2 separate regions of the Homo sapiens genome follow, and region 2 is linked to region 1. The links come from fine-mapping of genetic effects on gene expression. A gene starts in region 1. The other region holds a variant in brackets. All regions are shown on one strand. Distances are between the middles of the regions. Region 1 holds the start of CCDC57 (coiled-coil domain containing 57). Region 2 overlaps ASPSCR1 (ASPSCR1 tether for SLC2A4, UBX domain containing).

Region 1 (14,738 bases):
TAACCTCCAAGCTCTCCTTGTTCATTCCTGGGTGTAGGCCGAACTAAGTTTAGGAGGAACTTAGTTTATAGTTTGAAACAAAGACAGTAACAGCCCTTTCCCGAAACAAACCCCCTTTTTGCCTGGGGACTAGACTGCCTTTGTAGGACTAACAAATTAGCCAAAAGATTAGAAATTATGGTTTAGGGCCAGGTGCAGTGACTGGCCCCGGTTGTCCCAGCACTTTGGGAGGCTGAGGCTGGATCACTTGAGCCCAGGAGTTCGAGACCAGCCAGGGCCACACGGCAAAACGCTGCCTCTACCAAAAATACAAAAATTAACTGGGGCGTCGCTTGTAGTCTCAGCTACCAGGCAGGCTGAGGTGGGAGGATCGCTTGAGCTTACGACGTTGAGGCTGCAGTGAGCTGTGATTGCACCACTGCACTCCAGCCTAGGTGACAGAGTGAGACCCTGTCTCAAAAATAAAAAAAAAAAAACAAAAAAGAAATTATGGTTTAGGAGTCATGCAGCTACAGGCTACAAGATTCTGACCTTCCCCAAATTGTTCCTGGGGTAACATCACTATTGTAAAACCTAAGATCAATCAGTGCTTGAGATATTTTGCAGACCCTGCACTCCATGGATCAGCTGGCACCCCCGGATTGATAAACTGGCTCATCCGATCTTGTGGCCCCCACCCAGGAACTGACTCGGCGCAAAAGGACACCTTCGACTCCCTACGCTTTCATCTCCAACTCACTGGCCCCCTACACACTAAGTTATCCTTAAAAACTCTGATCCCCGAATGCTTGGGGAGACTGATTTGAGTCATAATAGAACTCCGTTCTCCCGCACAGCCGGCTCTGTGTGACTTACTCTTTCTCTATCCTAATTCCCGTCTTGGTGAATCGGCTCTGCCTGGGCAGCAGGCGGGGTGGACCTGTTGGGTGTTTATGTCTTGGGTGTTTATGTCTTGGGGACTGAGCCCTCACCCTGTGGTCTGACCTCTCTCCAGGCAGGCGGTGTTGGAACTGAACCGAAGGACACCCGCCGAGTCTGCGGCAGAACTGACTGCTCATGTGCTGGTGAAAACCTCCCTCTCCCACCACATTTGATCACAGAAGTCTTCCTCTGTGCTGATGATTCTTGTGGTATCAGAGTAGAGGAAAAACAGTTTGAGTTTTCCAGAAATACCTGTGAATAAAATACACATAAAATAAAATCTACTAAAAATACACAGAGAAGGGGTTTCTCCATGTTGGTCAGGCTGGTCTGGAACTCCCAAACTCAGGTGATCCACCTGCCTCGGCCTCCCAAAGGGCCGGGCGCAGGTGTGAGCCACTGCGCCCAGCCCAAATATATATATTTTTATGACCTCCATGTATAAATATATTTAATACCCTTAACTTATTATTATTATTTTAGACAGTCTTGTTTTCTTGCCCAGGCTGGAATGCAGTGGCGCGATCTTGGCTCACTGCAACCTCTACCTCCTGGGTTCAAGCTATTTTCCTGCCTCAGCCTCCCAAGTAGCTGGGATTACAGGCGCCCGCCACCATGCCCGGCTAATTTTTGTACTTTTAGTAGAGATGGGGTTTCACCATCTTGGCCAGGCTGGTCTTGAACTCCTGACCTCGTGATTCACCCGCCTCGGCCTCCCGAAGTGCTGGGATTACAGGCGTGAGCCACCGTGCCTGGCCTAATACCCTTAACTTATAAGACACTTCCTGGGACTGGAAGGCAGGTCTGGGGTGGCTCATTCACTTTGTACTCAGGACAGAGGACTCAATCTCAGCATCCTGAGTAGCTGGGACTACAGGCAGGCACCACCATGCCCAGTTAATTTTTTTTTTAAATTTCTTGTAGAGATGGGGTTCCACTATATTGTCCAGCCTGGTCTTGAACTCCTGGCCTCAAATGATCCTCTCACCTTTAAATGTACTGAATTTAGCTCTTGTGGCCCCTCTTGGATTCCAGAGAGTGCTGCTAAGCCCTCTGGGAGGCCAAATTCAGTAATCTACTCTTTTGTTTTGAAACAGAGTCTCAGTCTGTCACCCAGGATGGAGTGCAGTGGCACAATCACAGCTCACTGCAGCCTCGAATGCCCATCTAAAAGCTACAGCTCAAGCGATCTTCCCACGTACTTATAGGTGTGAACCACTGCACCCAGCCTCTCATCTACTCTTTAAATAGGTCCAGGGGACAAAAATTATGTACCTGTGACCCCGTGTTTTTTTTCACTTCCTCCACTGACTGCCGAAGAGTAGCCACAGCCATTTCTAAAACTGAAATAAGAGAGATGGGCAGTAGGTCTGAATTCTGTCAGTGGCACTTGCTGGAGAAGAGGGGCACCACTACCACGAAGGAACATGAAGGGCTGTTTTCTTTGAACGTGCATTTGCCAAAAAAAAGTGAGTAAGTGAGAAATAGAAGTTGAAGTCGAAGTCTTGTAGTTGAGTTTAGACTTTGCGGACTTTTAGAACCACGTATACATGTTTCATGTGCCAAAAACAAAGCACAACAAAAAACAAAAAAACTTAAAATCAGTAAGGACTCAAAATGAAGTAGAAACAGGTGAACCTAACTTGATTACAAGTGCGTAACTTGTAATAAACTCACAGGTTTTTTTGGTGTTTGTTGTTTGTTGAGATGGGATCTCACTCTGTCACCCGAGCTGCAGTGCAGTGGCATGATTATAGCTCACTGCAGCCTCAAACTCCTGAGCTCAGATGGTCCTCCTACCTCAGCCTCCAGAGTAGCTGGGACTCAGACACACGCCACCATGGCTGGCTAATTTATTTTGTAATTTTTTATAGAGATGGGTGTCTCACTTTGTTGGCCAGGCTGGTTTCCAACTCCTCACCTCAAGCGATTTTCCCCCCTCAGCTTCCCAAAGTGGTGGGACTACAGGCGTGAGCCACTGTACCCAGCCAGTTTTTAATATATACAGAGACACAGATATACTGAAATAGATTTGCATGTGTATAGTGTATAGAAACACGTTTCCTACTCTATCCATTAAGAAAGCCAAGAAGAAATGGCATCCCAGTAGCAATATGTCTATCTGGTACTGGGATCTTGGTTTCTAAACACTACCTTCTAAACTAAAAGGAACCAGGGCTCCTTGGAGAAATGACTGATTCTGGGATATGTCAAGGCAAGCATAAGATAAGCCTGAATTCTGTGATGCCAGAAAGAAAGAAAATGCTCCCAGAAGGTTGGGACGTGCTATAAGGACAGAGAGGCCAACTTGAAGGGGCTCCTAACACCTCAATCTGGATAATGTGAGCAACAAAGTACGTGATAGCGATGGGTTAGAATCCATGGAATAAAAAGATGCACTAACACCGAGACCGCGCCCCTGCAAGCCAGCCTGGGAAGAGATGGTTCTTTCTTATAGGAAAATCCCAACTAATAAATGTAGGAGTAATGGAAACAGAAAAATCATTTAACAAATAGCACATTAACAGTTATTTTGGGGAAACACTCATGGGTGCTAAAATTAGTGACAGAAGTATGGTTAGAAACAAGATCTTGCTGGGCGTTGTGGCTCAGGCCTGTAATCCCAGCACTTTCGGAGGCCAAGGCGGGCGGATCACTTGGGGTCAGCAGTTCGAGACCAGCCTGACCAACATGGTGAAACCCCGTCTCTACTAAAAATACAAAAAAAAAAAAAATAGCCGGGCATGGTGGCAGGCGCTGGTAATCCCAGCTGCTCAGGAGGCTGAGGCAGGACAATCACTTGAACCCGGGAGGCAGAGGTTGCAGTGAGCCGAGATCAAGCCACTGCACTCCAGCTTGGGCGAGAGAGAGAGAGACTCAGTCTCAAAAAAATAAAATTAATTAAAAAAAAAAAAAGGCCGGGCACGGTGGCTCACACCTGTAATCCTAGCACTTTGGGAGGCCAAGGTGGTGGATCACCTGAGGTCAGAAGTTTGAGACCAGCCTGGCCAACATGACGAAACCTCGTCTCTACTAAAAATACACAGATTAGCTGGGGGTGGTGGTGGGCGGCTGTAATCCCAGCTACTTGAGAGGCTGAGGCAGGAGAATCACTTCAACCCAGGAGGCAGAGGTTGCAGTGGGCCGAGATCGCGCCACTGAACTCCAGCCTGGGCGGCAAAGAGAGACTCCGTCTTAAAAAAAAAAAAAAAAGAAAAAAAAAAAAGAAAAAGAGAGAAAGAAAGAAACATCATCTTTTACATAGTGGCAAGATATTTCCCCACAAAATATTTATTATTTACAAAGGGAAGGACCCTAACTTTATGGACACACTTGGCAGACACCACCTCAGCCCCCAGGACGTGACTAGCACCAACAGCCAGGGGCATCCTGTGTCTCGTAAGACGCTGGGAAGGGCACAATTTCCCTGTTGAGGTTTTCTTGCCAAAAATCAGTAATATGAAATCAATTATGACAAAACATCAGAGAAATGCCCCCGAACTGGGGGGCATTTTATAAAATAGTGGACTCATCATTGGATCCTGGACCACGGTAAAGTCATCCATGAGGTAGCTGCTAAGCAAGAATAAATACTGGAGACCAGATCATGGGATGATACCAACATGAACGCCAGCGTCTACATGTTGCTGAATGAACTGTGGTTCTCTAAGAGGTCAGCATTCTAGGGGCTCTGGGCAAAAGGCACACGGGAAATCTGTGCTCCTTTTGTATCCTTTTTCTAAGTTACAGATAATTTTTTTTTTTTTTGAGACCGAGTTTCGCTCTTGTCTCCCAGACTGGAGTGCAATGGCGCGATCTTGGCTCTCCGCAACCTGCGCCTCTCGGTGTGGTACCCTACTTTGTTTTAACCTGACTGACTCTCTCTTAGCTGAGAGGGCCGGACAGACACCATTTTGGTTTCTTCGCTTGCAGCCCCTTGTCCCCGTCCCTTAAGGACATAACTGGGGCAAGCTGACTCCAAGCACATCCAGGAATGCGCTTACTGATAAAATACTGATAAGAAACTGGAGCAAGCTGTACCAGCAGCTCCTGGGAACGCGCTCGGTTGATGGTACCCAAAGCCCCTGCGTTTATCACTTTGTGATAATTTAAGCCCCTGTACCTGGAACTGTTTATTTTCCTGTAACTGTTTCTGTAACCATTTATCTTTTAACTTTTTGCCTATTCTGCTTCTGTAAAAAAATCGCTTCAGCTAGCCTCCCCTCCTCTATTTAGACCAAGGTATCAAAAGAAATCTAGCCCCTTCTTCGGGGCCGAGGGAATTTGCAGCTCTAGCAGTCTGTCAGTCGCTGGCAATACAGGACTCCTGAGTAGTCTCAGAGTGTGGCGTTCTCTCTATAACTCCCTCAGTTACAACATCGGGTTCAAGCGATTCTCCTGCTTCAGCCTCCGGAGTAGCTGGGATTACAGGCGTGCACCACCACGCCCAATAATTTTTGTATTTTTAGTAGAGAGGGGGTTTCACCATGTTGGCCAGGCTGGTCTCGAACTCCGGGCCTCAAGCAATCTGCCCGCCTCTGCCTCCCAAAGTGCTGGATTACAGGCGCGAACCACCGCCTCCGGCCTTTTTTTTTCCTCTCTTTTTTTTTTTTTTTTTTTAAACTCACAGACACTGTAAGGCTGCCTGGGCGCGGAGCCGTCCTTGCCGGCGGCGGAACCCGGGGAATTCTCCCGGGGCTGCGGGGCCCTGGTCGGCAGCGCCCACCGCCCCAGGTCACCCACGGGAGACCGAGGGAACGCTCCCGCTCCACGCGGCCGCAACCCCCGCCCCGCCCCGCCGCAGCCTCCGCGAGGGGATCCCCGGTCCGGGCCTGGCCGAGCTCTGAGGGTCGACCTCGCGCTCCAGGTCCCCACCAAAGCGCTGCGTCCGACAGGACGGCAGCTGCTGGGGTTTTCTACAGGAAGAGTGGTCGGAGCGGCGCCCCCCACGCCTCCCACGCCTCCCACGCCGCCCGCCCGCACCTCACCCTAACGCCCGCCAGCAGCGCTGGCCAGGTCCCGCCGCGTTGCCACAGCGACCGGGTCAGTCGGCCGCGTCCGGCTGCGCTCGGTGCAGCGCTCGGGTCCCGCCGACAGGAAACGGGGTCCCTGGCGCTAGGTTCCGGCCCCTCCCGCCCCGCCGGGTTCCGCGCTGCGCCCGGGTCCGAGGGGCGCCCCGGCCGACCCGACCACCGCCGCAGATCGAAGGAGGGAGCCCGGCCTCCTCACCGGTCAGCGGGGCGACTCCGGACGGGGCTCCGGGCTATGGGGACGGCGGGTTCCGCCGCGCGAGGCGCCCCCACCTTCGCCGCCCCCGGCCCGGCCGAGGGTCCCCAGGCGCCCGCTTCCTGAGGCCGCCCGGCTCGCGGTCCCGAAGGGTTGACTTGAGCTTTTGCCCTGAGATGAAGGGAGCACGGGGCGGCCGAGGCTGCCCGTGGGGGTCTGTTCGGGCCGGGGGCGCCACGAAGTCCTGCCTAAGGGTCGGCTGCGGCCACCGGGGCACGAGTTCCCGGCGCTGCCCACGGGCTCGGAGACCGGCGGGGCCCAGGGGCCGTGCGCGCGGTCGCTCAGACCCTGATTAGGGAACTGGGGGAAGGAGGGGGGTCGGGACCCACCGAGGCCCGAAGTCGCCCCCACCATCCTGTGGGAACAACATCCTCAGGCACAGCCATTCCCAACCATTCACATCCTCAGAAAAAGGCACGTGTCCGTATCCATCTGCGGATGGATGAACAGAGCCCGGCCCCGGGACAGAGCAGCCTGGCTCACCCGAACCCTCAGCCCGCAATTCTGCGTGGGAGTGGAGGGGGTGTTTGGTGTCTGGGAATTCCCCTGGTGGGGCAATAAGCCAGGGGTCTGGTGTCATCCTCCACCCACATTGTTAACACTGGATCACTCCTCTCCGTGCCGTGCCTGCAGCCCAGGCACCCTGCAGCCTGTCCTCCCCGAACCATGCGTCCTGGTAGAGCTGTCTCCCTCGCCCACAGTCCTCAGTCCCGCCTCACACACCAAACCCTCTTCTGCCTCAGGTCCTTTGCGCCAGTTGCCTCTGCCTAGACTTGGTTCCCTGGATGCCCCCTCCCCACCCCATGTGTATGTCCGGCTCCCTGGACCCACCCCCCACACTGTGTGTCTAGCCCCCTGGACCCACCCCCCACTCTGTGTCTAGTCCCCTGGACTCCCCTCCCCACCCCCTGTGTCTAGCTCCCTGGACCCCCAACCTGGCCCATGTGTCCAACTCCCAGGACCCCCCCACCCTGTGTCCAGCTCCCTGGTTTCCCCCACCACCCCATGTGTTTGGCTCCCTGTCCTGCTGCCTTCTCAGTGCTTGTGCACCCCCAGCCTCATCAGACTTGTCACTCTATTAGAACAGGATGTAGGGCCTGGACTGTTGGCTCCCTGCTACCCCCACCCACAGGACAGTGCTGGGGTTGACCCGACTTTGGCTGCACATTTGACTGGCCCCTGGATCAGCTCTAGGACTAGATGTACCCAAAAGGATGCCCACATCCTTGCCTCAGCTCCTGCCTCTGCCCACCCAGAGAGCTGCCTTGCCCCCATGTCCACGATGCAGCCACCAGGCCTGGGTAAGCGTGGGTGTCCGAGACGGGCTGGGACACCCAGAAGAGGAGCCAGGACTTGCTTGGTCTGTATCCCGGCTCTGCATGCCTCAGTGTCCCTGCCTGTAAAGTGGGATCTATGGGAACCCATGTGTGGGCCGGGCACAGTGCTCACACCTGTGAACCCAGCACCTTGGGAGGCCAAAGGGAGGATCCTTTGAGCTCGGGAGACAGGGTCTCGCTCTGTTGCCCAGGCTGTAGTTCAGCGGCGTGATCTCAGCTCACTGCAGCCTCCGCCTCCCAGGTTCAAGCGATTCTCCTGCCTCAGCTTCCTGAGTAACTGGGATTACAGGCACTTGCCACCATGCCCAGCTAATTTTGTATTTTTAGTAGAGATGGGGTTTTGCCATGTTGGCCAGGCTGGTCTCAAACTCCTGACCTCAAGTGATCTGCCTGCCTCGGCCTCCCAAAGTGCTGTGATTACAGGTGTGAGTCATCATGCCTGGCCAAAAAAAATTTTTTTAAATTAACCGGGTGTGATGGCACATGCCTGTGGTCCCAGCTACCTGAGGCCAAGGTGGGAAGATCACTTGAACACAGCACTTCGAGGCCACAGTGAACTATGATCGCGCCACTGCACTCCAGCCTGGGTGACAGAGCAAGACCCTGTCTCCAAAAAAAACCCTCTAAACCTATGTGTTATGGATAGGGCCTCTAAGAAGGTAATTAAAGTTACGTGAGTCCTAAGGGTGGGACCCTGAACTGTTGTCCTTAAAAGAAGAGGAAGAGACACCAGGAGTGAGCACACAGAGGAGAGGCCACATGAGGACGCAGGGAGAGGGTGCCGTCTGCAAGCCATGGAGAGGCCTCAGGAGGAACCCACCCTGCCGGCAGCCTGATCCCTGACATCCAGACTCCGGAAGTGAGAAAATAAATGTCGTTTAAGCCGCCCAGGCTGTGGTGTTGAGTTATGCGGCCCTAGCAGGTCATTTGTCACGTCATGGGTATCTGGACCTGGAATCGTGTGCTGGCCCAAGTCAGCAGCATGGCACCCATGGTCACCCCTTCAGCTGAGCCACATGCCCGGGTGCCCCAGGGACAGAGCAGGGTGTGCCACGGGCACTGCCTGGTTCCTGAAGCTGTGGGGCAGGCCGGTCTGGCCCTCACAGCCTGTGCTCTGATTCGAGGGCCGTTCCGTTGGGTTGAGCTCCACGGTCCCAGAGCGCCCGCCGTCAGCTCAGGCCCGAGGCTACACCTACTGAATCCCCCCAGCACTGCAGCACCCCTCCCCTTCCTTCCCTGCCCCCCACACTGCAGCACCCCTCCCCCTCCTTCCCTGCCCCCCCCACACTGCAGAACCCCTCCCCCTCCTTCCCTGCCCAGCTCCCCAGCTGGGCTCCACCTGGGCACCCTCAGTGCGGGTGGCCGGGAGTTGGCTGAGGGAGACCACATTCCCTTCACTCCTGGCCTCCAGCACCCAGCAGGACTCACAGGTGGAAGGCAGACAGGGTGTGAGCCAGGGCCTGGGCCGCCAAAACAAAGAACCCCAAACTGGTCCTTTCTTCTTTCCCAGTTCAGGAAAGCTGAGGATGTCGGCCGGGCCATGGCCCCTCCAAAAGCCCTATGGGAGAATCCTTCCCACCTTGGCCTCAGGTAGCTGGGACCACAGGCACCTAACCCTTCCAGCCTCGGCACCCTTGGCTGCAGCCACATCGCCCCCTCCCGCCCCTATATCCACCATCATGCGGCTTCTCCTGTGTGTCTGTCTCCATGTGCTGCCCTTCTTAGGACGCCATCACGTTGGAGCAGGACCACCCAGCCAATTACGTCGGCGATGACCCTATTCCCAAGCCGCATTCTAATGGACCAGCGGCTACGACTGGATCCTATTTCTTTGGGGACCACCATTCAGCCCTGGACCTGTGTGGGGCTGACAGCCCCCAGTGCTGGCTCCCCCAGGCCGTCCTGCAACCACCCTCATCATGCCACGACAGTGGAGGCCGAGGGCCCTTCCTGGTGCCCCGGTGAGTGACACGGCCAGGACCTGACCCTCCCATGCCTCTGTGGCAGAGCAAGGTGGGTGGGGAACTGGCTGTCCTGCTCCCAGCTGCGTTCCTGGCACCTATGCCCCACCCACCCAGACACACATCTGGGTGTCAGGCAGCCGCATGTCACTGAGTGGGGTAAACAAGGGAGGGTGAGAGGAAGGTCAGAAGGCCATGGCTGAGGGCGTAAGTGTGGGCTGAGGCTCTTGCTTCCCAGAACACAGACTGACCTTGGTGGCAGACCTCACCATGGGAGCCCCCAAAAGCTGCTTGCTTGAGGCCTCCAGGCCTCTTGCAGGGCCCTAAAAGCACAGGGATCCAGGACAAGAGGTGCGGGGGCCCCCGCCTGGGCACCAGCCTGCATGGGCCAGAGCAAGCCACTTCCTCTCAGGTTTGGGGAATGCCCACGTCAGACTTGCAGAGGCAACTTCTCCATCTGTCTGGCTCACAGGCCCTGTGGCAGGAGAGGAGCCAAGAAATGAAAGGGCCCGGTGGGTGTGGGCGGGCCCTGCTCCGATCTGGATCTGGCCAGTGCCTGTGGCACGCCCTGCTCTGTCCCTGGGGCACCCGGGCGTGTGGCTCAGCTGAAAGGGTGACCATGGGCACCATTTGCCTGGCTCCCAGGTCCTGAGGCCAGAGAGGAGCCAAGAAATGAAAGGGCCTGGTGGGTGTGAGTGGGCCTCAGTGTCTGGCTGCTCCAGGAGGAGGGGGGTGGGCACTGACTCCTGCCTGAGGGCTGGAGGCAGGGAGGCTCCTCTGGACAGGAAGACCCTCCAGGAACAGACCAGCAAGACTGGCACTGTCCAGATGGGACCAGGAGCCGGACAGCGGCGTCAGACATGCCCCACAGCGGCCGTGACCACAGCCACTTCCTGGAGGTCAAGACCTGGAGGCAGGGCCAGTGCTGCCAGGGATCCTGGTGTGGACACGGGCAGGACCAGGGGATGCTCCCTCGAGGCTGGTGTGGAACAGGCCGTGCTGCCCAGTGGGTGGGCACCCAAGGGGGCTCCAAGCCAGGCTGTCCTCCCAAGGCCGGCTTCGTCCAGAAGGAGAGGAGCCAAGGTGCCCCGGCATCCACCTTCCTCGGCTGCCTTGTCCACTGCAGGGACAGCAGCCTGTGAGCAGGAGGTGCTTTGAGGGAGCTGGGGGGACCCTGGGGGACACACGGCATTTCCACACTGTAACCACGTCACGTAGAGACCACAAAGTCCTCCTGTCTTGGGGTAAAAGTGAGGAAACTGAGGCTGGGGAAGCTAAGGGGCTCACGTGGCCTCTGGAAGGGACGGGGCTGGACCCCGGCCGCCGACAGTGTGAAAACAGCGGTTCCTGAGCCAGTGTTGCGGCAAGGGGCAAGGGACAGGCACTGTCAGAAGCCCCATGCCCCTCCCCAACCCCCCAGGAAGTTCCACTGAGTTCTCAGTGCTGAGTCACTGGCTGCGGGGCCTGCGGTCCTGGCCGGACAGGAAGGTTGGGCAAGGCCTTGCCCTCCCCCTCAGGCGAGAGGCACAGATCCTGCCACACAGCCCGGCCCCACTCCCCAGGCCCCCGGCCCCATAGGCCTCTAGCCACAGCCTGGCTGCTGTCCTCATGTCCTTGGCTCTGGCCTGGTGAAGGCCAAGGGCACTTCAGAACCTCCCTGTGCCTCCATGTGCCAGGTTGGGGCTGGGCACGAGGCCACAGCAGGGGCTGGCAGGTGGTGACCTCTGCTCCTCGACCTGGGATGCTCCAGGTTGAGACGTAGGGTAGCTGCAGTCCCAGCAATGACAAGCTCTGGGTAACCCTGGTGAGTGGACGGCCAAGGCGAGCCCAGCCTCAGTCACTGGGGGGTGGACGGCCAAGGGGAGCCCAGCCTCGGTCACTGGGGGGGTGGACGGCCAAGGGGAGCCCAGCCTCGGTCACTGCGGGGTGGACGGCCAAGGGGAGCCCAGCCTCGGTCACTGGGGGGGTGGACGGCCAAGGGGAGCCCAGCCTCGGTCACTGGGGGGGTGGACGGCCAAGGGGAGCCCAGCCTCGGTCACTGCGGGGTGGACGGCCAAGGGGAGCCCAGCCTCGGTCACTGCGGGGTGGACGGCCAAGGCGAGCCCAGGAGGTCACTGGAGGAGGAGAAATGCAGGAAGAAGGCAGCTGTCAATAGCGCAGGGGTGCACAGAGCCCTGAAGGAGCCATGTGTAAGGTGCCGAGGGTGTGTGCAGGTGGAGCTTGGTCAGGGAGGCCGCACCAGGACCACCAAAGCAGGTGATACCTGAATGATGTTCTAGGCCAAGGAAGAGAGGACAGAGGCCCGGCCAGGGCTAGAGCATAAACCAGGCTGGTGCTGACCACGGCAGAAGGGCAGAAGGTACCCTCCGGCTGTGCGTGGAGAACGGGCAGCAGGGACGAGGGCCTGGGGCCAGGCTGGTGGCACTGGCTGTTCCCGAAGCCCGTCACTCACCTGCATCTGTTCCATCCAGGCGCTGGGGTGGGCAGGACACCAGGATGCCAATGGCTCACTGAGCCGCCGGGGGCACCGCTAGGGCTTGGGGACCACGGGACTTGCCACTGGACATGGGGGTTGAGGATAAGGGAGAGAAAGGCTGAGGCAGCCCCGTGTGAGCCCAGCAGGACTGAGGGTCTCGGAGGGTCTGGGCTCTAGGACGTTTCGGGGTTACCGTGAGAGGAAGCTCCTAAGGACCGTGAGAGTGGATGGGGCCACCCCAGGCAGGTGTGGGCAGGGAGGAGAGGAGCAGGGATGGGGCCCATACATTGGGCTCAGGAGATGCAGGGAAGCCCCCAAGCTGCAGAAGAGGAGGACACCCGGGACCAGGCAGGGCCTGGAGGCCGGGGCAGCGATGGAGCCCTGCTGGGCCTGCAGGTCTGAGGCACTTGGGGGTTGGCCTGGAGGCCTAGGGAGGGGGTGTGGGGCAGCAGCACACTTTGCTGGTGCCACCTGGGAAGGTGCCCACCCATCTCCAAGGGGCGGGGGAGGAGCTAGTCTGTGCGGTGAGGGTGACACTGTCCCAGTCACCCTCCCCTAGACAGCAGGGAAGGTCCGGTCACCCCCAGGCACTTGCAGGCCGTGGGGGCTCCCCAGGAGCCAGTGGCCGCCCGTAGGGTCTCGCAGGCCAGAGGCCTCGCTCCCTGGGCCTGCTGTGTCTCTGGAGGCCCCAGCTGGCAGGGGGACCAATGGGGCCCTTCCCCACCGCCTCCCAGGTGCCGGTGGCCGCCCCTGAGCAGGGGGTTCTGGGGCCCCTGCCTGGACTGCTCCCCCACTGCTTGGCCCCGCCTCTCAGTCTCGGACTTGGGGAGGAGCAGCCAGGCCAAAGGGTGCAAAGAGGGGGCTGGGGGGCTGCACTGAAAGGCGGGGGGTCTGCGCTGAGAAGGGTGGCTACAGGCGAGCATGGGCTGCGCTGTTCCCACCCAGCCTTGAGTTCCAGTCTTGACTCCTCTCCTTCCACACTCCAGTCCTGCCTCCATGGCAGACCCAGGGCCGACGTGGGCTCCAAGGAGGGCAGAGGAAACCCTGACCCCCCAGCCCCCAGCTCAAGAGGAGGCAGGGGTGGGACACAGGGCAGGTGGAGCAGAGAAAGGCGAAAAAACGCACTCCAGGATGCTGGACGCTCAGGGCCGGGGGGGCCCTTTCACAGCAGGTTGGGGGGGCTCTCAGGGCCACACTTTGCCCAGCCTCCAAAGGGCTGAGCCAAGAGGAGAGGGCAGTGTCCCCACCCATCCAGCCACCTGCCACCCCGATCCTGGGACAGAGTTGTCTCTGTTGGCCCAGTGTGGCCTGGACACCCTAGGCTGGGCTCCACGGCCACCCCAAAACCTTCTTGCCAAGGAAGGCTGTTCCTCCCCCAGTGCCCAGGAGAGCTGCCTCCTGCTCCATGTCTACCACTGAGGCCTCCAGCTGATGACCTCCTGGCCTGCTGAGGCTTGAATGTTGGGGCCAAGGGGCTGGGGTAGGGCTCCACTCCACCCCAGGAGTGGGAAGGGGAGACCCAGGGCAACCTCTGGCCTCACAGGCAGCCCCTGCCTGGCACACCCACTCCAGCTTAAACATGGAAGCAGGCTGATCACACTGATTTTTGTCCTTAGGAAAGTAATAGATTCCGGCCAGGCATGGTGGCTTATGCCTGCAATCCCAGCACTTTGGGAGGTGGAGGTGGGAGAATCACCTGAGCTCAGGAGTTCAAGACCAGCCTGGCCAATACAGTGAGATCCTGTCTCTATCTAAAAAAAATTTTTTTTAAGTAAATAAAAAAAGAAAGTAAAGATCTCTTCCACAAAAGTGCTGGGGCAACTGGATATCCACATGCAAAGAATAATGCTGGATCCCTATCTCACACCGTTTATAAGTATCAATGCAAAATAGATCAACAAACAAAACATAAGAGCTAATATCACAAAACTCTCAGAAGAAAGCATAATTAATTAATTAATTTAATTTATTTATTTAGTTTTAGACAGAGTCTCACTCTGTCACCCACCCAGGCTGGCATGCAGTGGCGCAATCCCAGCTCACGGCACCCTTTGCCTCCTGGGTTCAAGCAATTCTCGTGCCTCAGCTTCCCGAGTAGCTGGGATTACAAGCATGCACCACCACACCGGGCTAATTTTTGTATTTTTAGTAGAGACAGGTTTCTACTGGCCAGGCTGGTCTCAAACTCCTGGCCTCAAGTGATCTGCCCACCTCAACCTCCCAAAGTGCTGGGATTACAGGTGTGAGCCACTGTGCCTGGCCCAGATTTTTGATATGATACCAAAAACACAAGCAACATAAGAAACAAAGATACAATTTTGTGCATCAAAGGAGAGTGAAGGCAGCCCACAGAATGGGGGAAAATACAGACCATATATCTGTTAAGAGTTTAATACCCAGAACATGTAAAACTCAACAAAGGGCCGGGCACGGCAGCTCACACCTGTAATCCCAGCATTTTGGGAGGCTGAGGCAGGCGAGTCACTTCAGCTCAGGAGTTCAAAGACCAGCCTGGGCAACATGGTGAAACCCTGTCTGTACAAAAACATACAAAAACATTAGCTGGGTGTGGTGGTGGTGCTTGCCTATCGTCCCAGCTACTTGGGAGGCTGAGGCGGGGAAGACTCGTGTGAACCCGGGAGGTGAAGGCTGCAGTGAGCTGAGAACGCACCACTGCACTCCAGCCTGGGCAACAGAGTAAGACCCTGTTCCAAACATAAAAGAGAATGAAACTAAACAACAACAACAAAAAAGACA
Region 2 (14,738 bases), 220 kb before region 1:
AGGGGTGAGCGGGACCCGAGGCAGGAGATGACGGAGCCTGAGAGCAAAGCGAAGCCACGGGCAGGGGTGAGCGGGACCCGAGCCAGGAGTGGCGCCGGGCAGGGAGGCAGGCAGCCCCAGGCGCTGTGTGGGCACTGGGTGAGAAGCAGGGATCCCGGCGCCCTGGCTCTGTGCTGCTTCCTGAGACGAGAGTGGCAGAGGGCAAGAAGAAAACCAAACAGCGCGGGGAACAGAAGTCAGGAAAGATGAACGTCTGGAAGGAAATGCCCCTGGGCCGGGCGGTGCCCCCGGGCGTGAACAGAATCCAGTGCTCCCACAGGCACAGGTGCTTGGTGAGGGCCGTCCTCCCTGGCTGTGCTGTCAGTCCTCAGATGGGGATGGAGGTAAGGAAATGGCCCAGAGTGGCCTGGGGCTGCCACTGGGGAGGGGCCGAGGGTGTCTGGAGAGGTGGGGCCGGCATTGTGGTAGCATAAGCCTCTTCAACAGACTTTGTAAACCTCGTGTGAAACTTAGTTTAAGAAACAACAGGCTTGGCCAGGCGTGGTGGTTCTGGAAGTGGCTTTGGAGCTGGCTTTGGTGGTGGCTGTGGGGGTGGGTTTGGGCGCTTTGGAGGAGGTTGCAGTGAGCCGAGATCGCACCATTGCACTCTAGCCTGGGTGACAAGAGCAAAACTCCATCTCAAAAAAACAAAAAAACAAAAGAAACAACAAGGCTGGGCACGGTGGCTCACACCTGTAATCGCAGCACTTTGGGAGGCTGAGGCGGGTGGATCACGAGGTCAGGAGTTCGAGACCAGCCTGGCCAATATGGTGAAACTCCATCTCTACTAAAAATACAAAAATTAGCCGGGCGTGGTGGTGGGTTCCTGTAGTCCCAGCTACTCAGGAGGCTGAGGCAGAAGAATTGCTTGAACCCAGGAGGTGGAGGTTGCAGTGAGCCAAGATTGCACTCAGCCTGGGCAACAGAGCGAGACTCTGTCTCAAAAAAAAAAAAAAAAGAAACAACAGAAGTGGCTGGGCGTGATGGCTCACGCCTGTAATTCCAACCCTTTGGGAGGCCGAGGTGGGTGGATCACCTGAGGTCAGGAGTTCGAGACCAGCCTGGCCAACATGGTGAAAACCCATCTCTACTAAAAATACAAAAATTAGCTGGGCGCAATGGCTCATGCTTGTAGTCCCAGCTACTCAGGAGGCAGGAGAATCACTTGAACCCGGGAGGCGGAGGTTGTAGTGAGCTGAGATTGCGCCACTGCACTCCAGCCTGGGTGACAAAGCAGGACTCCGTCTCAAAAAAAAAAAAAAAAACAAGAGCAAGTGGGGCAGCTCTTTCGAGACACCAGGGACAGCAGGAGGTGGTGGGGCCGTTGGTGGTAAAGCCCGGAGCCCCCAGCCTGCGGCCCTGGTCTGTGTGGCAGTGTGGGTCTGTCTGCGGGTGTGTCTGCACGTACACCTCATTTGATGAACACTCACACCTGTGGTGGAGAGTGATTTGTGGCTGACTGTTGTTGCTGGTGAATATGCTGTGGACATCTTCCTGAAGGGTCCCGCACCTGTCACTCCTCACAGCCATGCTCTTCCGTCGTGTGGGTGTCATGTGGGTGTTGCGGGGCATCTGGCTGTGTCTCAGGGCATCCCGGGCAGGGTTGCAGCAGAGTGTGCAGCTGGAGGCCTTTGCACCTGGTCACCCACCCCAGCTTCTCCTGTGGGCTAAATTCCAGAGGTGGAATTTAAGATAGGGCTTCTTCACATTTCATTTCCAGGCCGGGCATGGCGGCTCTCACCTGTAATCCCAGCACTTTGGGAGGCTGAGGCAGATGGATCACCTGAGGTCAGGAGTTTGAGACCAGCCTGGCCAACATGGTGAAACCCCGTCTCTACTAAAAATACAAAAAGCAGCTGGGTGTGGTGGTGAGGGCCTGTAATCCCAGCTACTTGGGAGGCTGAGGCAGGAGAATCACTTGAACTCAGGAGGTGGAGGTTGCAGTGAGCCGACATCACACCACTGCATTCCAGCCTGGGCGACAGAGCAAGACTCTGTCTCAGAAATAAATATTAAATAAATTTCTAAAAGCTCAGACCCAAGCTTTGTCCCAGAAGCTGGAGTTTGCTAACCATGGAGCAGGATATGGACGAGGTTTCATAGTGGGTGGCGTTGCCAGCCCCACGGTGAGGGTGGAGTGCCTGGTGGGCTCTCTGCTGGGAGCTGGTCCCCAGCAGGTCTGCATGAGGGAGGGAGGCTCTCGTGCCTAGTGTCCCTGCACTGGCCCAGGAGGCTTGGGGAGGCCTTGGGAAGTCCAGGTGTCCGCAGAGTGGGACGGGCGGGAAGCTGATGTTTCTTCTTTCATGTGTTTCGGAGGAGGTCTGAGTCCAGGGACAGTGTAGGCGCTGTGCTTCGAAGGGGCGTTCTGAGGCTGGGGGCTGCAGGCCTGTAGCGTGCCCAGGAGTTGCCCTGGGACAGAGCCTGCTTTGTGTATTTGGGGACCCCTGGGTGATTTCCTTGGATGGACACTGCCACGTGTTTGAAACGTTGCAGCTCCACTGCGAGGGTGTCACTGTAGCACGCAGCCCTGGCCCGACCAGCGTCTCAAGCAGCAGGGGCCTCAGGGATACCAGCGAGCCACACGTCGGCCATGGAGGTGACTCACATTTTCTTTTCTTTCACCCAGGCTGGAGTGCAGTGGTGCGATCTTGGCTCACTGCAACCTCCGCCTCCCGGGTTCAAGCAATTCTCCTGCCTCAGCCACCTGAGTAGCTGGGATTACTGGCGCACGCCATCACGCCTGGCTAATTTTTGTATTTTTTTTAGTAGAGACAGGGTTTCACCATGTTGGCCAGGCTGGTCAGGTGATCAGCCCGCCTCGGCCTCCCAAAGTGCTGAGATTACAGGCGTGAGCCACCACACCTGGCCAATCACTCACTTTTTCTTGTAACCGCATTAAAGAAGAAATAAAAACAGGTGTCATTAATTTTAGTAATACGTGTAGTTAACTCAGTATACCCAAAATACGACTTCCTGGACACGTAGTCAGTAGAAAAGTGAGCCGTCTCATGCTCTTGTTGTGCAGAGTCCTTGAGACCTGCATGTATGGTGCACTTGGAGCATCTCGGTCTGGGCCGGGTCCTCGTGGACTGGGCGCTCTCCACTCTGCTTCTCAGGCTCTGCTGCAGGGAGGGCGTCAGGAGACAGAGGCTGCACACTGCTGGCTTCGAGCTTTCCCATTTTCCCTATAGTCTGAAGGTTCTGCCCAGCACAGAGGGGTGTGAACAGCCACGCCGAGCTCTGGGGGACACTGCTCTCCGCCTGCCTGGTGGGCCTGTGTCTGAGTTTGGGATCTTCCACGCCGAGCTCTGGGGGACACTGCTCTCTGCCTGCCTGGTGGGCCTGTGTCTGAGTTTGGGATCTTCCACGCCGAGCTCTGGGGGACACTGCTCTCTGCCTGCCTGGTGGGCCTGTGTCTAGTTTGAGATCTTTATTACGGGGAGTGTGCCTTCCGTGATAGGAGACGCATGAGATGGAAATGAGGATTTCATGGCCTACGGGCCCTGGGGGTACACGGCCCTCCTGGAGGCACCCGGAGGAGGAAAGGGAGTACCTTTCTGACCAGCATCTTTGCTGGGGTACAGATTGTTATGCTAACGGGTTTCCTATGAGGAGTTTCTCTCCATGGGTTTAGAGCCAGCAGGCACTAGCCCCAGGAGGTCATACTGTGACTCGGGGGATACTGTAGCACGTCTGGGCAGTCCACGAGGGCAGGCGGGCGAGTCCCGTAGTTTGAATCCCACGTCCCGTAAGGACCTAGTTGCCAAGTGGTGAAAGGCAGGGGTGTGGATGGACCATGCTGAGCTGCTGGGAGCAGGAAGAGAACCGGGGACTGTTGTGGGTGACCGAGACCTGCCGTGGAACGATGCCAAGGGTGAGCCGTGGGAACTCACACAGCAGCTGAGCCGCTTTCCATCTGAAGACCGTGAGGGAGCAGGGTGGGCTTTCTGTAAATCAGATTCATGAGCTCAGCCATGGAGGGGATTTGTCCTCTCTCAGAGGTGCCCCCGGGCTGTGCTGGCGTGGGCACCCCAGGTGGGAGTGGCCCCCAGTGTGCCCGGCCCCTGGCTGGATCTCTTCCCAGGCCCCCAGCCCTCTGCTCCCAGCCTTGACTCAGTGCTTGGGGGCTGGCTGAGTGCATCTCAGCCTGTTCCTCCTTCTGTAGGTAAAGCCGTGGCTCCGGGAAAGCTGGGTGATTTCTGCAGCCCTCTGGGTGTGCTGGGGTGTAGGGATGGGCTGCTGGTGAGGACAGGGCTCTGCCAGGTGGAGCACTGGCCTGTGGCCACACTCAGGGTGGGTCTGTGCATGCTGCTGGGCCAGCTCAGAGCTCTGCGGCCCGTCCCTGTCCATCCCTGCCCGTCCCTGTTCATCCCTGTCCGTCCTTGTCCATTCCTGTCCATCCCTGTCCATCCTTGTCCATCCCTGTCTGGACCTGGCTGGGTTGAGAAGGCCGGAGCCTGCCCCAGGCTCTCCCAGGCTCTGTCTAGCCGCTTGGCGGCTGGGCTGTCATGTGGTGGGTGATGCCCTCTGCGGGCCTCCCTGAGCCCAGTGGCTCCTGGCCTGCAGCCACAGCTTCTGTTCCCGGCAGGGCGCATGCTGCTGCCTGGGCTCTCGTCAGCACCTGTGTTTGCGCCCGGCTTTGTCATACCCAGACAGGACATGAACACAGAGAGCTCTAGACTCACTGCCTTGTCCCCAGCACACAGCCGCGCCTTGCCGGAGCGGGGCCCCAGCGGGGCGGGGTTTGTGGTGCATAAAGAATATGCCCTCGAAGCCAGCAGCAGAGGCGTGTCTGCCCTCCTGGCCGTCCCGCTGGCTTCTGGCCCTGGCCGGGTGGGGAGCTCTGCTGGCTGGAGAGTGTGTGAGAGTGTGCCAGTACCCTGCTGCGAGCAGGCACCCGCGGAAGCGCCCCAAAGCACTTCTTGCATTTCTGGCTTCGGAGCATGGTGTCTGGTGGCTTGGCCTGGCCTGGGGTCCCCGGGAGGCCCTGGGTCTTGCCCCTGCGGACATTGGGACTTGCAGAGGTCTGCGTGGGGGAGGGGGAGTAGGGGCTGTGTCTCCTCGGGCGCTGGAATTTCCCCCGGGCCCTGGCGTCCTGCACACTGGGCCGGCGTAGAAGGTCTGGAACCGATTGCCCACCACCCCTCCCTGAGATCCCGCATGAGGGAGGGAATCTGATCCCTCTGGAGGAGCCGCACATCAAAGCCGGGCTGGCGTTTGATGTCACGCTGCTGTGCTCTGTCCCTGTTTGTGATTTGAGGTCCCCAAGCTGGCGGTCAGTGCCGGGGAAGGACTGTGAGTTGGGACTCTGGCCACCCCTCAGCCCAGGCCTCCCCAGCCGTAGAGAAGTGGCCTCATGACCATCTCCGGACCCCTGGCCATCTGTGTCATGCTGGGGAGCGGGGACCCTGGGCCCTCCCTGTCCCCCTTCCTGGCCCTGGGGGCTGTGCTTCCTTGAGGCCTCTCTCTGCCTCTGTCCGGGTTCTGCTCCGG[C/T]GCATTTTGAGGCCTTGTGTTTTCCTGAGCCCTGCGTCTCGGGGCCTCTGGGCCGAGTCTCCAGCCATTTGGAGGGAAGGCAAATCCAAGGCCCTTTGTTGGCTGCTCTGTGGGACGGGAGCTTAGGGAGTGTGTCCCAGCCTGTGCGCAGAGGACACCCGCCGTGTGTGTGGTGCGCACGTGCTCCACAGGCTAGAGGCCCTTGGGGAAGGGGCTCCCCTGTAGGCAGTGGACCCAGGGAGACCATGGGGCTAAGTCCACGACCCTGTGGGGCCTCTGCAGCCAGACCAGGCTGTCAGAGTCGGGGCCTGGGTGGGAAAGGGATGCCCCTCCCCCAGGATTGAGGACGTGAAAAATAAAGGCCACGAAACAAAAGAAAACACGTCAAACCCACACACGTGGCCGAGTCCCCAGGTGTCGGGGCTGGGCCTGTCCTGGGTGTGGCACCTTGGGCTTTTCTGCTTGGTCTGTTCTCATTTCAGGGAGGCAAGTCCTGCCCTTTTTTTTGTTTTGTTTTGTTTTGTTTGTGTTTGAGACGGAGTCTCGCTCTGTCGCCCAGGCTGGAGTGCAGTGGCGCGATCTCGGCTCACTGCAAGCTCCACCTCCTGGGTTCACGCCATTCTCCTGCCTCAGCCTCCCGAGTAGCTGGGACCACAGGCGCCCGCCACCACGCCTGGCTAATTTTTTGTATTTTTAGTAGAGACGGGGTTTCATTGTGTTAGCCAGGATGGTCTCGATCTCCTGACCTCGTGATCCGCCCATCTCGGCCTCCCAAAGTGCTGGGATTACAGGCGTGAGCCACCGCGCCCGGCTGAGTCCTGCTCTTTCAAGTAGGTCAGCAGATCCCAGGGTCGGGGCACGGTGAGTGCACAGTGGACCCCTGCGGCCCTGTAAGCACACAGGTGGGTTCAGGCGGAGGCCGAGAGTTCCTGTCCCAGCATCCCGCTCTGTGCATGGATGTGCACGTATGTCTCGACCTGGACACTGCAGCACCCTGCCCTCTGACCCTCCCAGTACCCCCCATCCCGGAGGGTTGCTGCAAGCAGTTTCCAGCCCAGCTGTTACCTAATCTTTATCCCCTGTGTTCTGGTCACCAGCTCAGCCTGTGTCTTCCTGTCCCACCTGAGCCCTTGCAAGGCACACTGGCCATAGGGCCTGGCAGGGCACCTGCATGACCTGAGGCCGGCCCTGGCCTCCCCTTTGCCTAGGCTCTGGCCATCTGCCCCCTCCTCTCGGATTCCCCTCCCTGGAGAGGGACTGATGAGGGGCATCTGCAAGGAAGGCCTGAGAAGGGCTTTTGTTTTTCTCAGTGGGGAGGATTTCACGGTGGGGAGTTGGAAACGCAGAGGCAAGCCCGCCTCATGCAGCAGGTGCCACCAGCAGTTCACATGCTCTGGGGCTGGATGTGACGGCATGTGCCCGTCTCCCGGGCTGCCATGCACATCAGGCATGTGTGGGAGGCGTGCTGCATATACCTGCCCACCCATGCACGGGTCCAGCTGTGCCTCCTGCGGGGCGAGGCTCAGAAAGACACTGGTGGCAGAGTCCGACATGGACTTATAAGCACGGCCTCCCCGGCCACAGGCAAGCGGGCGTGAGCGGAGTGCAGCGCCCCTCCCTCCATGCTTCGGTGACATCAGGCGTCGGCTTTGAAGGAGGACATCAGGCGGTGGAGACAGGGGCACCTCCTCTTAGTGGGCGGCTTAAGATGAAAGCCCAGACGTCGGTACCCTGACTCTCAGGCTCCTGAGTACAGGTGTCCGTGAGCCGCATTCCGGAGCCAGTGCTGCTCGCCCCTCCTGTGCGGTCCCTGGGCCCTGCCGGCAGCTCCACGTCCTGCCAGCGGCCCCGAGACTGGAGGTCTCGGGGGGAGCCCCCAGGCCACGCACCACAGGCCAGGGTCCTTGGGAGCGCCCCCGGCTGTCAGGTGCCTCCTTTTGGTGGTTGTGGGGCGCAGTGGGGCTGAGGTCTGTGGCCTGGGCCTGGGCCTGGGACGCTGTCCTGGGTGGGTGCTGGGTGAGGGCCCCACACCTTTGCTTTCCGAGTCTCCTGCCCCAGGGCCTCCGTGGCACTGGTTGAGCTGCCCTGGGGTACCTGATGGTTTCTTTCCTCTCCTCCCAGGGAGTGCCTGCAGCACCCCGGCGGGGCCACCCCAGTCTGCGTGTACACGAGGGATGAGGTAGGCGGCCTGCTCTTGCTCACCCAGTCCCCGCTCACTTTCAGCCCACTTTCCAACTGGAAAATCTGCTGTCCCGCAGCCGTCTCCAGGGCAGTGGCGGGAGACTCGGGCTCTTGAAAGCACGACGTGTTTCATGGAAAAAGAGGGAGTGGCCGGCCCTCGGAGCCCGGGCTGCCCCGAAACCTCCCTCGGCGCCCTGTTTGTTTTTTCAGCTTCTCTCAAAGCCCAAGAGTCACAAAAGTGGTTTCATTTAATAAATATTTGCTTTGCTCGGTGTTTTGATCATTTTCAAAACCGAGTGTGGCGTGGCGCAAGCAAAGCCCGCCGTGGCGGGACCCTCCTAGCGCTCGTCCCTGGCCTCACAGGGGCCTTTTGTTTCCACGCTGGCTGAGTGCCCTTTGCTGGGGTGGGGGGGCACTGGCCCGGAGGGGCCCTGGGGGGCCAGGACATTCCCCGCATTTATCCCCATTTGGAAGCTCCCTGGCTGGGGCTGTGACGGGGAGGTTCAGGTCTACGTCCTCCCTTGAGGGGATGAGCCACGGGGCTCAGGACCCAGGCCCAGCACTGTCCTGAGGCTGTGGCCCTCAGGGACCCTTACACCCTTTGGCTTTTGTGCTGGGCCATTGACTGTGCCCTCGCTAGAGGCAGCTTCTCCACCCCTTCCTCACAGGTCAGAGTTAGCGTATGGGACGTGGCCAGCCAGGCCCGATCCCTGCCCACCCCGAGCTGAGCACCAGGAATGGCCACCCCCGTGGGTGACAGCACGTTCCTGCCTCTCTCGCTCCGGGCAGTGGGTCCTGGCACCAGGGCTTCCTCCTTGCAGCCCAGCTCTGCCAGCCCAGGCCTCAGTGAGCTTGGGTCCCAGCTGCGGAGACCAGGCTGGGGGAGACACGGTCAGGCATGGGCAGCAGGTCCTGCCCCGGCTGCAGACCAGACTCAAGCTGGGCCTTGTGGAGGGTGTGGACCGGCAGGGGCCAGATGTGGGGGGTGGGTAGGATGGAGGCCAGAGAGGGCACGTGGCCTGTGGTCCTGGTGGTGCCGGTGCCCGGAGGGCTTCCCTGGGCTCTGGGGTCCCGGTGCAAGGCGCACCTGTCCTGGCTGCTCCTCCTGCAGGTGACGGGTGAAGCTGCCCTGCGGGGCACGACGCTGCAGTCGCTGGGCCTGACCGGGGGCAGCGCCACCATCAGGTAAGGGCAGTGCTGCTGGGGCCGAGGAGTCTATTTAGCTAAAAAAAAAAGTGGTCTCAAAGGAAAGGAGAAAGGACACGTGGCAAGTGGGGAGTAGGTGTACCCAGGCCCTCATCATGGAGAGCGCCTGGTGGCCTCTGCCTGCCTGTGGGCGTGGGGGCTGGGCTGCCCCGACCTCATCTCTGTGTCCCCCAGAGGGGCGGTGGATCTTGGGAGGGCGCATGGGGCAGGAGAGGGTGAACCGGGGGCGGGAGAGGGTGAGCCGGGGGCGGGAGAGGGTGAGCCTGGGCCGGGAGAGGGTGAGCCGGGGGTAGGCACCACAAGGTGCTTCCCTTGTCCTCTGGCCCCACTCAGGTTTGTCATGAAGTGCTACGACCCCGTGGGCAAGACCCCAGGAAGCCTGGGCTCGTCAGCGTCGGCTGGCCAGGCAGCCGCCAGCGCTCCACTTCCCTTGGAATCTGGGGAGCTCAGCCGCGGCGACTTGAGCCGTCCGGAGGACGCGGACACCTCAGGGCCCTGCTGCGAGCACACTCAGGAGAAGCAGAGCACAAGGGCACCCGCAGCTGCCCCCTTTGTTCCTTTCTCGGGTGGGGGACAGAGACTGGGGGGCCCTCCTGGGCCCACGAGGCCTCTGACATCATCTTCAGCTAAGTTGCCGAAGTCCCTCTCCAGCCCTGGAGGCCCCTCCAAGCCAAAGAAGTCCAAGTCGGGCCAGGATCCCCAGCAGGAGCAGGAGCAGGAGCGGGAGCGGGATCCCCAGCAGGAGCAGGAGCGGGAGCGGGTAAAAGGGGCTCTAGGCCTTGGGACTTGGGGGTGTCCTTTCTCCTGATGTGTAGCCCTGCGTGGCTTTAGCTGGTCAGCCTGGTGGCGTGGCCGTGATGCGGGCAGAGGAACCCAAACGCGCAGAGGAACCCAAACGCGGGGCTCTGGACAGGAGCCTTCTGACTTCGCCCAGGAAGGAATTTAGGGGTAAGCAGGTGGTAGAGAAAGTAGCTTTACTGAGACGGTGGCTGTGTCTGCTCCGGGATGAGGCCGTGTCCGCTCCGGGATGAGGCCGTGTGGGCTCCGGGATGAGGCCGTGTTGGCTCCATGACAAGGCGGCAACTGTGTCAGCTCCGTGTTGGCTCCGTGATGTGTGGCACAGAGCAGGGCCGCCCTGGGGTGGTGCATGGAGGGCAGCAGCTCAGGGCATGGCCGTGGTCACATTTACATCCACTCAACTACATGCACGTTAAGGGGTGGGGCATTCAGAAATCTCTAGAAAAGGGGTGGTAACTTCCGGGTTATGGCCAGGGAAGGGGGAGCTGGTGAACGCATCAGCCAGTCTTCAATCTGGTCTGGAATCAAGCCCCACCTCCTACCTGAGCAGGGTCACTGGGCTTGTTCTTAGCTTCTCAGGCAAATGATTTTTTTTTTTCTGGGTTTTTTTTTTTTTTTTTTTGAGACAGAGTCTCACTGTGTCCCTAGGTGGGCGTACAGTGGCGCGATCTCGGCTCACTGCAGCCTCTGCCACCCAAGTTCAAGTGATTACTCCTGCCTCAGCCTCCCGAGTAGCTGGGACTACAAGCGCGCACCACCAAGCCCAGCTAATTTTTTTGTATTTTTAGTAGAGACAGGGTTTTACCATGTTGTCCAGGATGGTCTCAATCTCTTGACCTTGTGATCCACCCACCTCGGCCTCCCAAAGTGCTGGGATTACAGGCGTGAGCCACCGCGCCCAGCTCTTTTTTCTGGTTTTAAACCACCTTTACTGAGGCACCCACTTTTTTTTTTTTTTTGAGATGGAGTTTTGCTTCTGTCGCCCAGGCTGGAGTGTGGTGGCGCACTTTCGGCTCACTGTAACCTCCACCTCCCGGGTTCAAGCGATTCTCCTGCCTCAGCCTCCCAAGTAGCTGGGACTACAGGCGTGTGCCACCACGCCCAGCTAATTTTTGTATTTTTAGTAGAGACGGGGTTTCACCATGTTGGCCAGGCTGGTCTCGAACTCCTGACCTCAGGTGATCCGCCCGCCTCAGCCTCCCAAAGTGCTGGGATTACAGGCTTGAGCCACCGCGCCCAGCCTAATTTATTTTTATTTTTATTTTTCATAAAGACGAGGTCTCTCTCTGTTGCCCAGGCTGGTCTCGAATTCCTGGGCTCAAGCGATCTTCTTATCTCAGCCACCCAAAATGCTGGGATTACAATTGTGAGCCACCTCACCAGGCCTGAAAGTTACTTTTTATAATATTGTGGATAGTATCATGCTTCCTGTTACATCTTTGACTGGCTGACTCCTTGCTAGTTCTAGTGGCGTCTTGGTTTCTGTCGGGGCCTCTGCAGACCTTTCCCTTTGTCCTCTCATCGTTTTTCTTCCTGTGTTGCAGCGAATGGGCCTCTGGTGCTTTTGGATCGTGGCGATCTTAGTAGACATCCTTCCTTGTCTTGATCGTAACAGGAATTACTAGTCATTTCTCTGCCAAGGATGATGTGTGCTATAAAAAGCCTTTATCAAGCAGAGAAAGTTACTATTCCTAACTTTCTGACATTTAAAAAAATCTTAAGTGGGTGTTGAACCGTTTCAGTGTTTTCAGCATCAATGGAGATGACCGTATGCTTTATTTTATTGGCTTGTGCATGTGTGTTCATAAGTGAGACAGACTTTTTTTCCTTGCTCTGTCTTCATCCAGTTTGGGAATCGAATTTCACCTGGCTCACAAGGGAGCTGGGCAGTGGCCCCTCTTTTCTGGGTTCTGGAAGTTCTCCGAAGGTTATGGCCACTGCTCACTGCAGACTACACCCACCACTGGGGCACTGGGCCCTTGGCGGGGAGTGCATGCAGGCAGGCGGCCAGGTGCTGACCTCCGAGCATGCCTGTGTGTGGCTGTGGCCTGACCCTCTCCCTCACGCCTCCCCCCAACCGTGGGGACCTCGTGTCTGTGGGGTCCCTGGCCCTGTGGCTGACTTTTCCTTTGTCCCTGTCCTGACCCCGCATCAGAGCCCTGCACCTGGGCTGCTGAAACCTGACTTCCTCAGCTTCCTCACCTGCAGAACTAAGGTGTTCGTGGCATTTATGGGTTTTGTGCCAAAAGAGGCAGACTGGGGGACTGTCATGCGGCTTTCGGTGACAGGGATGGGAGGAGGCTGTTTCCCAGCCCCTGTGTCCCCTGAGGGCCAGGCTGCCAGCTGCCAGCCACAGCCCAGGGGCCAGGTCAGAGCTTCTTGAGCTCCTGCTGACGTAGTGGGCCTGGAAGGCCCCCATGCCTCCATCTCCTGTGGACATTTAAAATATTTGTGTCTGGGCCTGTGGCATGGTGGCTCACACCTGTAATCCCAGCAGTTTGGGAGACCGAGGTGGGCAGATCACCTGAGGTCAGGAGTTTGAGACCAGCCTGGACAACATGGCAAAACCCTGTCTCTACCAAAAATACAAAAATTAGCTGGGTGTGGTGGCAGGTGCCTGTAATCCCAGCTACTCGGGAGACTGAGGCAGGAGAATCTCTTGAACCCGGGAGGCGGAGGTTGCAGTGAGCCGAGATCGTGCCACTGCACTCCAGCCCGGGTGACAGAGTGAAACTCCATCTCAAAAAAAAAAAAAAAAAAGAAAACAAGAAGTGGCCAGGAGGGCTCTGTGCACATGGCCCCGGCCTCGGCTGTCCCCTGGGCACTCGTGCTACGTGTCCCGGAACTCAGGTGAGGTCAGGAGTTTGCTTCCTCCTCCTCTGGCCACTTCTGAGTGAAGCAACCTCATGCCTCCCTCTTGCCTCCCGGCCACACACCTGGGAGGGCAGAGGCCGGGCGTCTGCACCGTGTTGGATGTGGGGGCTCCCATCTAGCCCGGCGTCAGGGTCCAGCCCCTCTGTTTTCTGTCCCCCTGGCTGTCCTGGGACTGTTCCTGTTGAGTGGACAAGGGAGTGGGGAGTGAGGGTGTTGGGTCCATTCTAGGACTATGATGGTGTTGGCACCCCATCCTCCCTCTGGGAACTCTGCCAAACTCTGCACTGTGACACCTGAGTCCCCATGAAGCGCTCGTGCCCCTCGACCCGTGTGCTCCGGGTGAGCAGGGGCTGACCCCCTCTAGGCCTGCTCTTGTGGGGACCCCTCAGTGTGAGAGACACAGTGGCTGTCATGTTCCCCCATTCTAGAGGCGTGGGCCTCAGCCCCTTCCCTCCGTGACCAGGGCGGGTCTTGTCTGCAGAGCGTGGGGCGTGGAGCATGGGGCTCGCAGCCCAGAGTAGTGCCCGCCCGTGCTCGCCCGTCGGGAGGCGCTGTTGGGGTGGGGTCTTGGCTGGCAGGAGGGGTCCAGGGGAGGGAGCGTGTGCCTGGCCTGCATGGCGTGCTGAGGGCCTTTGATCTGGGACTTGGGCAGCTGATTGATGGAGGGCGTCCTGCCTGCCCCGCGCCTCCCATCGCCGCCAGCCGCACACGCAGAGGGCCCGGGGCCACATGCCGCTGCTGGGTCCCTTTCAGTGATGGGGGGAGGGGAGAAGGGAACAAAACAGAACTTTTTTGGGGAACTTCAAAGGTACACTTTAGTAAGCAAAAAGAGTTTCCAAGTTTCCCATTAATGTTTTGCCTGTGTGTGGTTTTTGGACTTAAATAAAGAGTCAGAAGGAAGAGACAGGATAAAATACAGGCAGGTCCTCGGCCGAGACCCGGGGTGGTTCACAGACCCGGGCGGTTCCTGCCTTTGATGTCAGGCATTAATTATTAGAAGGTAGTTTTACTGGCGATCAGAACCGGGCGCTGGGAGAGGCTGGGGCTGCCCGGCGCCCCCTGGCCCTGTCTTTGAAGTGCCTCCACTGGCTGGGAGGCTGCCCTGCAGCCCTGTGCTGGGCTGGGACGCCAGTCCCAGCAGACGCCCCCCACAACTCGGCCTCCCGGCAGCTGGCACGAGGGCCGCTCCTGATCAAAGGCTGGGTCTGCCCGCACGGGCTGGCGGCTGCTGCCCTGCCTGCCCCTCCCGCCTCGGGGGTGAACCTTGCTCCTGGAGCCGGGGCCTGGGGTTTCCTCAGCACCCCTGCTCACACCCGGCCCTCTGTGGCTGACAGCCGGTGTGGGACTCGTGGGGCGGGGAGGAGCCTGTCCCAGGGTTTTGGGGGTAAACCAGCGGGGAGGAGGCTGGGCCTGGAGCGGGTCATGCACTGGGCGTGGTGAATACACCCTGCCTGGGACCCCCGTGTGCCTGGCAGGGCAGGTGCTGTTGACCCTGGGCAGTAGGTATTGGGCCAGGGGCTCCTGCCCCTGGACCCTGACGCCGGGCTAGACAGGAGCCCCCACATCCGACGCGGTGCAGACTCCCATCCCTGCGGCCAGCACAGTCAGTGGCCAGGGTGGCCCAGGTCCCTGCTATGCCTCATGGGTGTCTGAGGACAACCCTGGGCTCTGAGGCTGTCCCTAGGGGCACAGCCTGTGGCCTTGATTGGAATGGCCACCAAGCGTGGCTGGCAGATGGCTCAGCGACTTTGCAGGTGGCTGGCTGAGTCCCGGCTGTTTAGAAGCCTGGTGACTGACAGGCGCTTGTGTTTTGGTGAGGAACCCCGGGGGGTAGGGGGTGGATGCTCGCCACTGGGGCTGTGGGGAGAACTGGGAGTGTGGGGCTCCGTACTGGGCGAGTCGGCTGCTGCAGGGCGCAGACCCCACTGGCCCCTTCTGGCCTGGACTCTCCTCCCCGTTGGGCCCAAGATCCCCTGGTTGGGATTGTTCCAGGAACTCAGGTCAGGGGCCCCGTCAGCCCTTCCCGGGCTCCCCCAGGAGCAGCCTCCAGACTCTGCCCTGCGGATGACCCCCCTCACCAAACTGCTTTTCCTGCCTGTCCGGGGGTGTTGGTGCGCTTTATCCACAGTGACACACGCCTGCCACAC

What was found. PIP is the estimated chance that this variant, and not a neighbour inherited with it, causes the effect. A credible set is the group of variants that fine-mapping cannot tell apart.
Region 2: its variant is the best candidate, but not a certain one, in a credible set for the expression of CCDC57 in whole blood (TOPMed, PIP 0.54).

The regions. Positions count from the first base shown.
Region 1 is chr17:82,206,876-82,221,613 of GRCh38, forward strand. CCDC57 (coiled-coil domain containing 57) reads right to left here and starts at 5,967. Exons shown (of 19, transcript NM_001394669.1): 1 at 5,910-5,967. It also overlaps a transcript of SLC16A3 not described here. RefSeq lists a silencer at 5,508-6,427 and enhancers at 6,378-7,320, 8,238-8,532, 9,594-9,873.
Region 2 is chr17:81,987,168-82,001,905 of GRCh38, forward strand. It overlaps ASPSCR1 (ASPSCR1 tether for SLC2A4, UBX domain containing), which reads left to right. Exons shown (of 16, transcript NM_024083.4): 5 at 7,654-7,711; 6 at 8,825-8,898; 7 at 9,253-9,679. Among named protein-coding and RNA genes, the nearest start is that of ASPSCR1, 17 kb to the left of the region's middle. RefSeq lists enhancers at 2,600-3,309, 4,020-4,727, 6,856-7,563, 13,894-14,541. The variant C/T (reference allele first, on the strand shown) is at 5,533.